Regions from separate parts of the Homo sapiens genome. Here regions 2, 3 and 4 are each linked to region 1. Evidence: fine-mapped expression QTL. A gene starts in region 1. Each other region holds a variant in brackets. All regions are shown on one strand. Distances are from middle to middle. Region 1 holds the start of RGMA (repulsive guidance molecule BMP co-receptor a). Region 2 overlaps LOC105370982 (a long non-coding RNA gene). Region 3 overlaps LOC105370982 (a long non-coding RNA gene). Region 4 has its middle 86 kb from the start of RGMA.

What was found. PIP is the estimated chance that this variant, and not a neighbour inherited with it, causes the effect.
Region 2: its variant is fine-mapped to the expression of RGMA in blood mononuclear cells (TOPMed, PIP above 0.99).
Region 3: its variant is fine-mapped to the expression of RGMA in blood mononuclear cells (TOPMed, PIP above 0.99). The same link has a PIP of 0.9 or more in monocytes.
Region 4: its variant is fine-mapped to the expression of RGMA in prefrontal cortex (GTEx, PIP 0.95).

What each region holds. Positions count from the first base shown.
Region 1 is chr15:93,087,772-93,090,454 of GRCh38, forward strand. It overlaps RGMA (repulsive guidance molecule BMP co-receptor a), which reads right to left and starts at 1,440. Exons shown (of 4, transcript NM_020211.3): 1 at 1,148-1,440. The coding sequence starts at 1,161. LOC101927025 (a long non-coding RNA gene) reads left to right here and starts at 1,443. Exons shown (of 5, transcript XR_007064769.1): 1 at 1,443-1,506.
Region 2 is chr15:93,243,028-93,245,710 of GRCh38, forward strand. All of the region lies in intron 4 of LOC105370982 (a long non-coding RNA gene), which reads left to right. Among named protein-coding and RNA genes, the nearest start is that of RGMA, 160 kb to the left of the region's middle. RefSeq lists enhancers at 1,737-2,246, 2,247-2,683. The variant G/A (reference allele first, on the strand shown) is at 1,309.
Region 3 is chr15:93,246,656-93,249,338 of GRCh38, forward strand. All of the region lies in intron 4 of LOC105370982 (a long non-coding RNA gene), which reads left to right. Among named protein-coding and RNA genes, the nearest start is that of RGMA, 160 kb to the left of the region's middle. The variant G/A (reference allele first, on the strand shown) is at 1,425.
Region 4 is chr15:93,173,538-93,176,220 of GRCh38, forward strand. No RefSeq gene overlaps it. Among named protein-coding and RNA genes, the nearest start is that of RGMA, 86 kb to the left of the region's middle. The variant T/C (reference allele first, on the strand shown) is at 1,588.

The DNA of each region.
Region 1 (2,683 bases):
GAAGGTGATGGAGCTCCTTTAGGTGACAGCATGCCACTCAACACGACCCGCAATTTCGTCCCCTGAGCTCAATGTGCTGAGCATGGGAGGTCGGGGTTCTCCCTGGTACCGTCGATACTCAGAGAGCTTCTGTAGCCTCCTTCCTGGAGGCGAGGGCTGGTTCCCGCCTCTCCACCTTGTGCGGGAGACTACTTTGAGAACACCCAACAACTTCGCAGCCTAAGAGGAATGCACAGCTCACCACTTCCGCTAGATGGCGCTACTTCCCCTACTCCGCCCGCGAGACACCCAATTTATAAAATAAATACAACCCAACACCTCCCAAAACCACACCACATAATAGCAGCTCACAGGCTCCCATTAGAAATCTCAATTTGGGAGAACTGATTCTACCTCCGAGCAAGTCTAATACAATTACATTAATAAGACGCAATCCCGAATTGCACCCGAGCGTCCCCCACACCCGCCCTCCCATTGAATACACCTGTCCCCCATGCCCGGGCTTGTACCCTGGGTTGAGCTGCGGCGCGAGCCGGCGCTGAATCGTCGCCGTGCCCTCCCGTCCACTTAGGAAAGCCGGGGCGGCTTGGCAATGGGCATCCTCGGCCCTCAATCCAAGGTCCGCACCTTCCCGTACGCCGGCGCGCCGAGGCAAAGGGCCGCCGGGACGCGAGCCCACGCGGTGCACTGCGCCGACATCCCCGAGGGCAGGAGATGGCCAGGCAGCTCCGCAGCCGGGCGTCGAGCGGGAGGCGGGGGCCCGGGCGGCGCGGGCCAATGGGGGTTCACGGCGGGACAGTCGGGTGGCCGGCTCCGTCCGGGGCTCCGCGAGCCGGGCTGAGGGAAGGAGCTCCCAGCCCGCACACGGTGTAAGGGACGTGTGCCGGGTCTGCCCAACCACGCGCGCTGGCGGCTGCCCGGGGGAGAGTATTTTAGGAAAAAAGAACAAACACCAAACCACAAAAACTTTCCTGCTGCCAACAGCTAAAGCGATAGAGGCGCAGCAAAGCTCCAAATGTGGGCAAGATGGGAGCAAGATGAGACGCGGGGCTAAGGAAGACCAAAGCAGCGCCGTGGCCCCGGCATGTGTCGGCGGCGCCTCGGAGATGTCAGAGCCGGGTCTGCCCGGCTCCCGACCCGCGCTTACCTTGGCGGCTGCATGAGCCCCTGCGGCCCGCGGGGGGTGGCGCTGGCGGGGCTGCGGGAGAAGAGGGGGTGTCGGGGCGCCGCTCGTCTGCCCCGGGGCAAGGTGGGAGGGGCTCCGCTGGCGCTGGTCCCCGCCGCCCCGGCCGGCTCAGCAGCGGCCCGGGGAGCGCCTCCTGCTCCCGGGCTGCATGCCTGCGAGCGCCTGGCGGAGCCGGCCCGGGAGCGAACGGCCAGTGCTTCCCCGGCCCAGCGGCTCGGGCGGCGCAGCCAGCGCTCGGGAGACAACTGCAGAGTGGGGCGGCCGGGACCAGCCCCCTCCCTCGCCCGGCCCCCGCCCGCCGCCGAGCGCGGCGTCGCGAGGTTCGTTTGCGCGCCGAGGGGAGGGGGCGGGCCGGGCGCCCGGGCCGCGGGCGGGGGGCGCGCGCGGGCGGGGCCGGCAGGGAGGGGCGGGGAGGAGCGGGGTGCGGGCTCGCGTTGCCCCGCCCCGCCGCGGCCCCACCCTCCCGCATCAGCACCGGCTGGGTGGGTGCGGAGTGCGCCAGCGGCCAAGTCAAGACTCCTTGAATGCTCAGGTTAGGGGGCGCGGGCGGCAAGTGCGGCGACTCCCCGGGGCGCCTCCAACTTTCCGAATCGCCCGCAGGGTTGCGGTGGAGCGCACGGTGTCCTTCAGTTAGGCGGTGGTCGAGGGGAGTTCCTCTGAGATTTCTGGAGAAGGCGGTTACATCCAAGACAAATGCTGTTGCGCTCTGCGGAGACGCACCTTTGTTCTATAGAGATTTTGTTGTTGTTTAAGAATCTTCCTGAAAAAACTAATACATATGTATTACATGCTAACACACGCATACATTCTTGCGTAGAATTGTACATAACTCAGGAGTGTCTAGAGTGAAAAGACCGTATCGCACTCCCTCCCACGGCCGCGGCTCTCCCACGGCCGCGGCTCCCCCGCGGTAACCTTCGGTCAGGGTGTGCTCTGCCGCGGTTCTTTCCAGTCTCTGCGCTTTTACATGCACACGCACAGATTGCGAGTGGAATCTCCTGGGCTTTTCAAAAGAATGTTTTCAACATTAAGCGCATGCACACAGTGGCTTGAACACGGCCACGTCGGGAGCAGTAAATCCCCAGAGGCTCCGGGAGCCCAGGGAAGGACCCTTGCTGTGAAACAGCAAAGAGCCACCCAATCGCCATGTGTGGATCTGAAACCCCAGCTGGAGCGTGAAGTCGGTCTGGTTACACAGCTCAGGCCCAAATTAGCACTGCACGGTTAGAGAGATTTGCCAGTACATTCTAGACAGGGTTATGACCTTCCCCTTCTTACAGAACAAACTGTCTTGAATTTTGATATGATGAGAACTCTGGATTTGCAAAATGAAAAGGTATCGTCCGCATTAAAACACGATCGTTATTTATGCGTGTGGTCTTCAGAGATGTGGTTTTAACTCAATATTCTCCGTTTTATTTGTCAAGTGTATTTGTATAATCTATAGCTGGGATATAAATAAAATTAAGTGGTTTAGCAGGAAGGGATTGGGGATGG
Region 2 (2,683 bases), 160 kb after region 1:
TGAGCGAGGTGGCAAAGAGAGAGGGAGAGAATGTGTGTGTGTTTGTGTGTGTGAGGTGGCAAAGAGATAGAAAGAGAGGGAGAGAGAATGTGTGTGTGTGTGTGTGTGTGTGAGTGAGGTGGCAAAGAGAAAGGGAGAGAGAGAATGGGTGTGTGTGTGTGTGAGCGAGGTGGCAAAGAGAAAGGGAGAGAGAGAATGTGTGTGTGTGTGTGTGAGCGAGGTGGCAAAGAGAAAGGGAGAGTGTGTGTGTGTGTGTGTGAGCGAGGTGGCAAAGAGATAGGGAGAGAGAGAATGTGTGTGTGTGTGTGTGAGAGCGAGGTGGCAAAGAGATGGAGAGAGAGAATGTGTGTGTGTGTGTGAGTGAGGTGGCAAAGAGATAGAGAATGTGTGTGTGTGTGTGAGCAAGGTGGCAAAGAGATGGAGAGAGAGAGAATGTGTGTGTGTGTGTGTGTGTGAGCGAGGTGGCAAAGAGAGAGGGAGAGAGAGAATGTGTGTGTGTGTGTGTGGTGGCAAAGAGATAGAGACGGAGAGAGAGAGAGAATGTGTGTGTGTGTGTGTGTGTGTGTGAGCGACGTGGCAAAGATAGGGAGAGAGAGAATGTGTGTGTGTGTGCGTGTGAGCGAGGTGGCAAAGAGATAGGGAGAGAGAATGTGTGTGTGTGTGTGTGTGTGCAAGGTGGCAAAGAGATGGAGAGAGAGAATTGTGTGTGTGTGTGTGTGTGAGCGAGGTGGCAAAGAGAGGGAGAGAGAGAGAATGTGTGTGTGTGTGTGTGTGTGTGTGTGTGTGTGTCTGAGTGCGTGTTTGTCTGAGATGTGTGTATGTTAATTATTAGCCCAGGCCAGGCGCAGTGGCTAACGCCTGTAATCCCAACCCTTTGGGAGGCTGAGGTGGGTGGATCACCGGAGGTCAGGAGTTTGAGACCAGCCTGGGCAACATGGTGAAACCCTGTCTCTACTAAAATATAAAAAATTAGCCAAATTAGTCAGGTGTAGTTGTGGGCACTTGTAATCCCAGCTACTCAGGAGGCTGAGGCACGAGAATTGCTTGAACCTGAGAGGCAGAGGTTGCAGTGAACCGAGATAGCGCCACTGCACTCCAGCCTGGGCAACAGAGTGAGATTCTGTCTCCAAAAATAATAATAATAATAATGATGATGATGAGCCCAGATTGTGGTCAGTTTAAGAGATGAAAGTGAGGAAACAGAATTTTACTTGTTTGGCCACAGAATATTATCTGGGCATATTTGAGAGGAATGAGGAGATAATTTTCTTTTTTAAAAAATGTTTTAGTTGACAAAAAATTGTATAT[G/A]TTTATTGCATACATGTTGCTTTAAAATATGTATACATTGTGGAGTGGCTCCACTGAGCCCCTTAAGATAGGCATTACCTCACATGCACATCATATTTTTATGGTGAGACTTAATATCTACTCTCTTAGCAATTTTCAGGAGTAAAATACGTTGTTATTAATATAGTCACCATGTTGTGCAATAGAACTGTTGAACTTTTTGCTCCTAATAGAAATTTTATTTTTATTATTCCTAATAGAAATTTTATTTTTATTATTCCTAATAGAAATTTTATTTTTATTATTCCTAATAGAAATTTTGTACCCTTTAACCAACATCTCTCCAAACCTCTCCCTCCCGGCAGCCCCTCGTAACCACCATCCTGCGCTGTACTTTCATGCCTTCAGCTTTTTAGATTCCACATGTAAGTGAGATCACGCGGTGTTTGTGTTTCTGTGCTTGGCTTATTTCCCTTAACTTAAGGTCCTCAGGTTCGCATGTGGAGGAGACAGTTTTCTAATCTTTAATCCTTTGCTTTGTGGAGTGTTTCCAGTCGCCTGAGTGGTTTTCCATGCATTTGCCATTCCGTCTCTTCTTACACTCGGGCAGATATTATCATCATCATGACAGTTTTTAGAGCGGGGACTGAGACTCAGAGAGGTAAAGCCTGTTGTCCAAGACCACGCAGAGGACCAGGATGTTGGAATCTGCCCTTCCTTGCCACTATTTGCTGCATGGCCAGTGTATGCTGGGCACTTTTCTAGGTGCCAGAGGGCACTGAGCTGAGTCTGGTGTTGGGAGGGGTGGGTCTGCGGCCCTCTCCTCCCACACCTGTGGGTTCTCTTCTTGCGCCGAGTGGGGCAGAGGAGATCCGGCTGAGGCAGCACTAGGCGCAGCCCCCACACTGCCTGCGGGGTGGCGGTGGGGATCTGGTGGCTTCTCTCTGTGGTTGTGCAGGTCTTGATGGCTTCTGTACCCAGAGCTCCTGCCCTGGACAGCAGGGGCTCGGAGCTGCCCATTCCCATTGTAAGGAGGCTCCTCTCTATGCTGGAGGGTACTGTCTGGAGGTGTTTGCCTCACTCTCTCCGCTGTGTTAACTGAAAGGCAGGGTGCAGATGCGTGCGGAATCTGGGCAGCCTTGGACGCCCGCCCTTGAACTCAAAGTACGCACACCTTCCTCTTCCAACTTGGACGCCGGCTCCCTGGGTTCATCTTGGCCTTGGCCCTGTCCTTCTCAGGTCTAGTTCATTTCTTTTTGCTATCAGGCTGCAACTCCCATCCAAGGAAGGCTGGGCAGAATCCAATAATGAGTAGATTTCACTGACGGTTAGATTGATTGTCTAATCTGGTTGTCATGGGGGCCAGCAGAGACAACAGCATTGAGTCTTCCAGCGC
Region 3 (2,683 bases), 160 kb after region 1:
GGTGTTCTTAGCTTCTATGTGATGTGGCTTCCGAGTCAGCTCAGCTGGTGTTCCTGAATCAGGTCTATTGCGAAGGAGCATGTAAGGTTCCAGGAGAGTGCAGGAGGTCTGTCTCATTTTGGAAAGGCCGAGCGACAGGAAAAACCACATAAAACCCTTGCTGATTTTTCTGCTTCTGTTACACCGAGTGTGGGTGCGTTGTGCTCTGTACAAAATAATGGTTTTTGTCAGACAGGGACGAGCCGCTGATGGAGGAACACCTTTCCTCCTAGGCTCTCCCTGCGTCAGGCGCAGCCTCGTCATCCTGCCCTGCCCAGTAATTTAGAAGAATAGCAGTAATGATGACAGCCAAAGCCAGCTGGATCCTCAGGGAGAGTCCTAGGAGGCAAACTATAATTATCTAAATTAGACTCTGAGGGGGACTTAAGTTTTACAACCTGTTGTTCTCTGCCACAGAGAGGAGTGTTGCTAATGTCTCTTTTTGCTGAAAGTGTGCCTTACAATGGAGTGTCTCACGGCTGATGTTCATATGGAAACAATGACACTTGCTTTTCTTTCTTTTTTGCCAAAACCCATTCAAAGAGTTCACTGTATCTCAGTGAAGGTTGAGAGGACTTCTAGAAACTTCCAGAAACTTACGAAAGTTTCCATGTTTGTGAAATGAATGTTTTGCCTTTTTCCTAAATTACATTCCCATCAAGAAGCAAGTAGTTCTTGCATATTCTTCCATCTCAAAGTAATCACTCACCTATTTCACCAGGCTGTTTTTTTGGAGTCTCAACTGGCAAATTTCTACAAAGTGCTCTTCTTCACAAGACTTCCTGTTACCTCAGGACCAGAGGTAACCATGAAGCTGAGGGCGGTGGGGCAGCCTCACTAGTGAAATGACTCCCTCCCGCTCACAAGCCTTCCATGGGGCTCACGCCACACCTCAGCAACATTACAAATGCCGACCTAAGTAACACGGGGGTTGACTTCAGACATTGTGGTCAGGCCGACTTGTGTTTAAACCTAGGCTTTGACACCGGTCGATCGTTCAGCCACATGCAGGTTACCTAAGCATGTCCCACGTGGCACAAAGCAGTTGCCTGAACGCCACACTGGGAGGCTTGTCTTAACTTTATCCTGGCTTCCACCTGCACTCGCCGTGATTCTGAGGGCTACTGACCCCAGCCTGGTGCTGCGTTTGGGCTCAAAAAATTGCAATGCTGTCAAGCTGCAGAATCTCTATTGCCCAACAGATACTGTTGTCTTGCCAAATAATTTTTAGTAATTTTCCACCCATCCCCCTTTATGTAATTTTCCATTTCCCCATAGCCCCTCTAGTCTGTTTTTTTTTTATTCCCTCCTTTCACTTCCCCATAATCCCTTTTAGTTCCCTCTCTGTTCTCCCTTTAGAAACCTCCATACCTTTGTCCTAGCTG[G/A]ATTTGAGCTCAGTTATATTGGAGTCTCTTTCCTCTAAGGCAGTAGACTGAACAAAATGTTTTGCCGCCTTTAATGTGTGTCTGGCACTGGCATTGATGAAGGCTTAGCTTCTGCACCTGTAACATGAACAGGTGAGTATCTCTTCTTCTAACTAGGCACTACTTAGTGATATAATAACAGTAACATGTTCTGGGCCATGAGGATTTATTTCCCAAAGTAGAAACCACATTGGTTAAATGTGCAAATATCAATGCTGTACTGAGTTGAAAAGACACCCCAAGCCGGGCACGGTGGCTCATGCCTGTAATCCCAGCACTTTGGGAGGCCAAGGCTGGTGGATCACCTGAGGTCAGGAGTTCAAGGCCAGCCTGGCCAACATGGTGAAACCCCGTCTCTACTAAAAATACAAAAATTAGCCGGGTATAGTGGTGTGCACCTGGAATCCCAGTTACTTGGGAGGCTGAGGCAGGAGAATCGCTTGAACCCAGGAGGCGGAGGTTGCAGTGAGCCAAGATCGAGCCACTACACTCCAGCCTGGGTGACAGAGCAAGACTCTAAGAAAAAAAAAAAAGACACCCCAAATACTCACAAGCGAAGTGACACTTGAAAGAATCTTCACATTTACAGGCTGAAGAAGAGAAACAAGGGAATCTTAAAAGTGAGAGGGCCGGGTGTGGTGGCTCACGCCTGTAATCCCAGCACTTTGGGAGGCCAAGGCAGGCAGATCACGAGGTCAGGAGATCAAGACCATCCTGGCTAACACAGTGAAACCCCGTCTCTACTAAAAATACAAAAAATTAGCCGGGCGTGGTGGCGGGTGCCTGTAGTCCCAGCTACTGGGAAGGCTGAGGCAGGAGAATGGCGTGGACCCGGGAGGCGGAGCTTGCAGTGAGCCGAGATCGCGCCACTGCACTCCAGCCTGGACAACAGAGCGAGACTCCATCTCAAAAAAAAAAAAAAAGTGAGAACAGCGACAGTACATGCAAGGCAGAGTTGTGGATGGAAGAGTGGACTTTGGTAACAGAAAAGAGGCAGGCAAGGTTGGGATTAAAAGGGCCCTGTGTATCAGTGTGAGGTGCTTGCATTCCATCTTTAGGGCAACAGGAGAGCTTAAGCCACAAGGCGAGTTTTGCTTACTAGGTGGTGCTAATAGGAAGAGCCAAACCATAAGGCAGAAAAGAGGTGGATTTGCTTACATTGATATTAAGGATTTCTGGTCCAGTCCCTGGACAGAGTTTATAATAGATGACAGAAATGG
Region 4 (2,683 bases), 86 kb after region 1:
TAGGAGGCAGGAAGTGAAAGAGTCAAGAGAAAGGCGAAAGAATGCACATGTTTTTTTCATGATGGCACTCCCAGGCCTTAGCCCAGACCTGGCTCAACGTTTGCTGTGTTGAAATGACTCATAACCAGCTATTGTCTGAATCAGGCTGAAGGGATTTGTCTTAGTCTGTTTGTGTTGCTATAAAGGAATACCTGAAGCTGGGTGATTTGTTTAAAAAATTATTTTACTTTAAGTTCTGGGATATATGTGCAGAACGTGCAGGTTTGTTACATAGGTATACATGTGCCATGTTTGCTGCACCCATCAACCCATCATCTAGCTTTTAAGCCCTGCATGCATTTGGTATTTTTCCTAATGCTCTCCCTCCCCATGCCCCCCACCCCCTGACAAGGCCCAGTGTGTGATGTTCCCCTCCCTGTGTCCATGTGTTCTCATTGTTCAACTTGAAGCTGGGTAATTTATGAAGAAAAGAGGTTTATTTGGCTCACGGTTCTGCAGGCTGTACAAGAAGCGTAGCATAGGCATCTGCTTCTGGCGAGGGCCTCAGGAAGCTTCCACTCAAGGCAGAAGGTGAAGGGGGAGCTGGTGTGTGCAGATCACATGATGAGAGAGGAAGCAAGAGCAAGGGAAAAGGTGCCAGGCTTGTTTTAACAACCAGCTCTCAAGGGGACTCTTTTGGGGCCTAATAGAGCAGGAACTCTCCCTTGTTACTATGAGGATAGCACATGCTGTTCATGAGAGATCCACCCCTGTGATCGAACAGCTCCTACTAGGCTCCACCTTCAAGATCGGGGATGAAATTTCAACATGAGGTTTGGAGGGTCAAATATCCAATCATAGCAGGATTGGAATGCATAATGGTGATTCTGGAAGTCTTTTAGGGAGAAATGCATCTGACAAGCAGGAGCAGTTTGTCACTGATATGCCTGGTCTTCCTAAAATGCTGATGCTGCTACTGCAACTACCACCTCCACCAGCACCATCTTAATCTCCTCTTCCATAGTTCCCATCACCACATCCCTCTACCACCACCACTGCCACCATTACCACCTTCACTCTCATTACCACCTTCAGTGCCATCATCTTTGCCACCATCACCACACCACAACAGCCATCACCACCATTACCATTTACTGAACCCTTGTGACGTGGTAGACACCATGCTAGAGGTTTTTAAAGGGTTTAATCTTCATGATACTCCTACATAGTAGAAATTACTAGTCCTATTTTGCAGTGGAGGGAACTGAGGCTCAGAAAAGTTAAGAATTTGCTCAAGATGACATAGTAGAAAGCTGTAGAGCCAGGATTTCAACCAGGTTCATTTGCTCTTCCAGTAGACAAGGAGGAGTGGCTCAGAAAGCTGTGCTGTTGGACACAGGCATATGTTGTGGGCTTGTTTTATGTACGTCTGGGCCACATTGTTTGGGTCTGAGAGACTCTTGTGGGCTATGACCAGCACTGACAATCTGTTTTCCCTTATTTTTTCTGACTTTCTTTCACACATTCTAGATCATATGGCTTTTCTGGTCAGAACAAATGAAAATGTTTTATGTCCTCCCTTTTCTGAGCTTTGGATGTTACTGTTTG[T/C]ACACAGTTCTGGAAGCAGATGGAGCCTGATAGAAATCCCAGATGATAACTCAGACTCAAAAGCTCCTTGCAAATGCCCACGTAGCATAAATACCCTTGAGCATATGAGAGACAGTGACAGAGACTGAAAGACAGACAGAGAGACAGGGACAGAGAGAGACAGAGACAGAGAGACAGAAAGAGAGACAGAGATAGACAGAAACAGAAATAGAGACAGAGACAAAGAGACAGAGATAGAGACAGAGACAGAAAGGCACAGAGGGATAAGAGAGATGGAGACAGAGATAGAAAGAGACAGAGAAAGAGATAGACAGAGACAGAAACAGAGACAGAGAGAGGGCTGCAGAAAACTCATCTTTGCCTGCAATGCCTGCTCCAGCCAGATATCAACACGGAGGGCTCCCCACCAACATTCTGATAGATTCTGAACTACAAGCTTCCAGAATATTAGCAGCTGAGCTCCTCCGCCCTGGGAGGAGATAGAGACAGAGAGAAAGATAGAGACACAGAGGGAGAGGCAGAGATACAGATGTGGAGAGAGAGAGACGGAGATGCAGAGAGAGAGAAATAGAGACACAGACAGAGAGATAGAGACAGATACAGAGAGAAATATATAGAGACAGAAACAGAGAGAGGCCAAGAGATAGAAACAGAGAGACAGAGAGAAAGAGGTAGAGACACAAAGAGAGACAGAGATATAGAGTTGAAGAGACAGAGGGAGACCAAGGGGCAGAGAGAGAGAGTGTGTGCCTGATGGCGCTGTTGGTCCTTTGTATTTTGGGGTCTAGGGGTGCCAGGAGTACCTTGGGCCTTCCGTGACCTTTGCTTCACATCTCCTCAGGTATGAGTGAGTTGAGCAGGGGGCTGCCTTTGCCCTGCGAGAACCGTGCTGAGCACTTTCTAATGCCTGGCCTCTTGGTAATGGCACATCTGCCTCCTGACAGAATCCAGAAGCCCGAGTCAGGTGCCTCCAAAAGGGTCCCAGTTCATTGCTGGGTGCACAGTGTGAGCTTCTGCTCCATCTAGGCATGGGAAGAAAGCCTCCCCTGAAGCTGTTACTCCAAAAGTCAATTCCCCTTGCATTTAAATGGAAGCT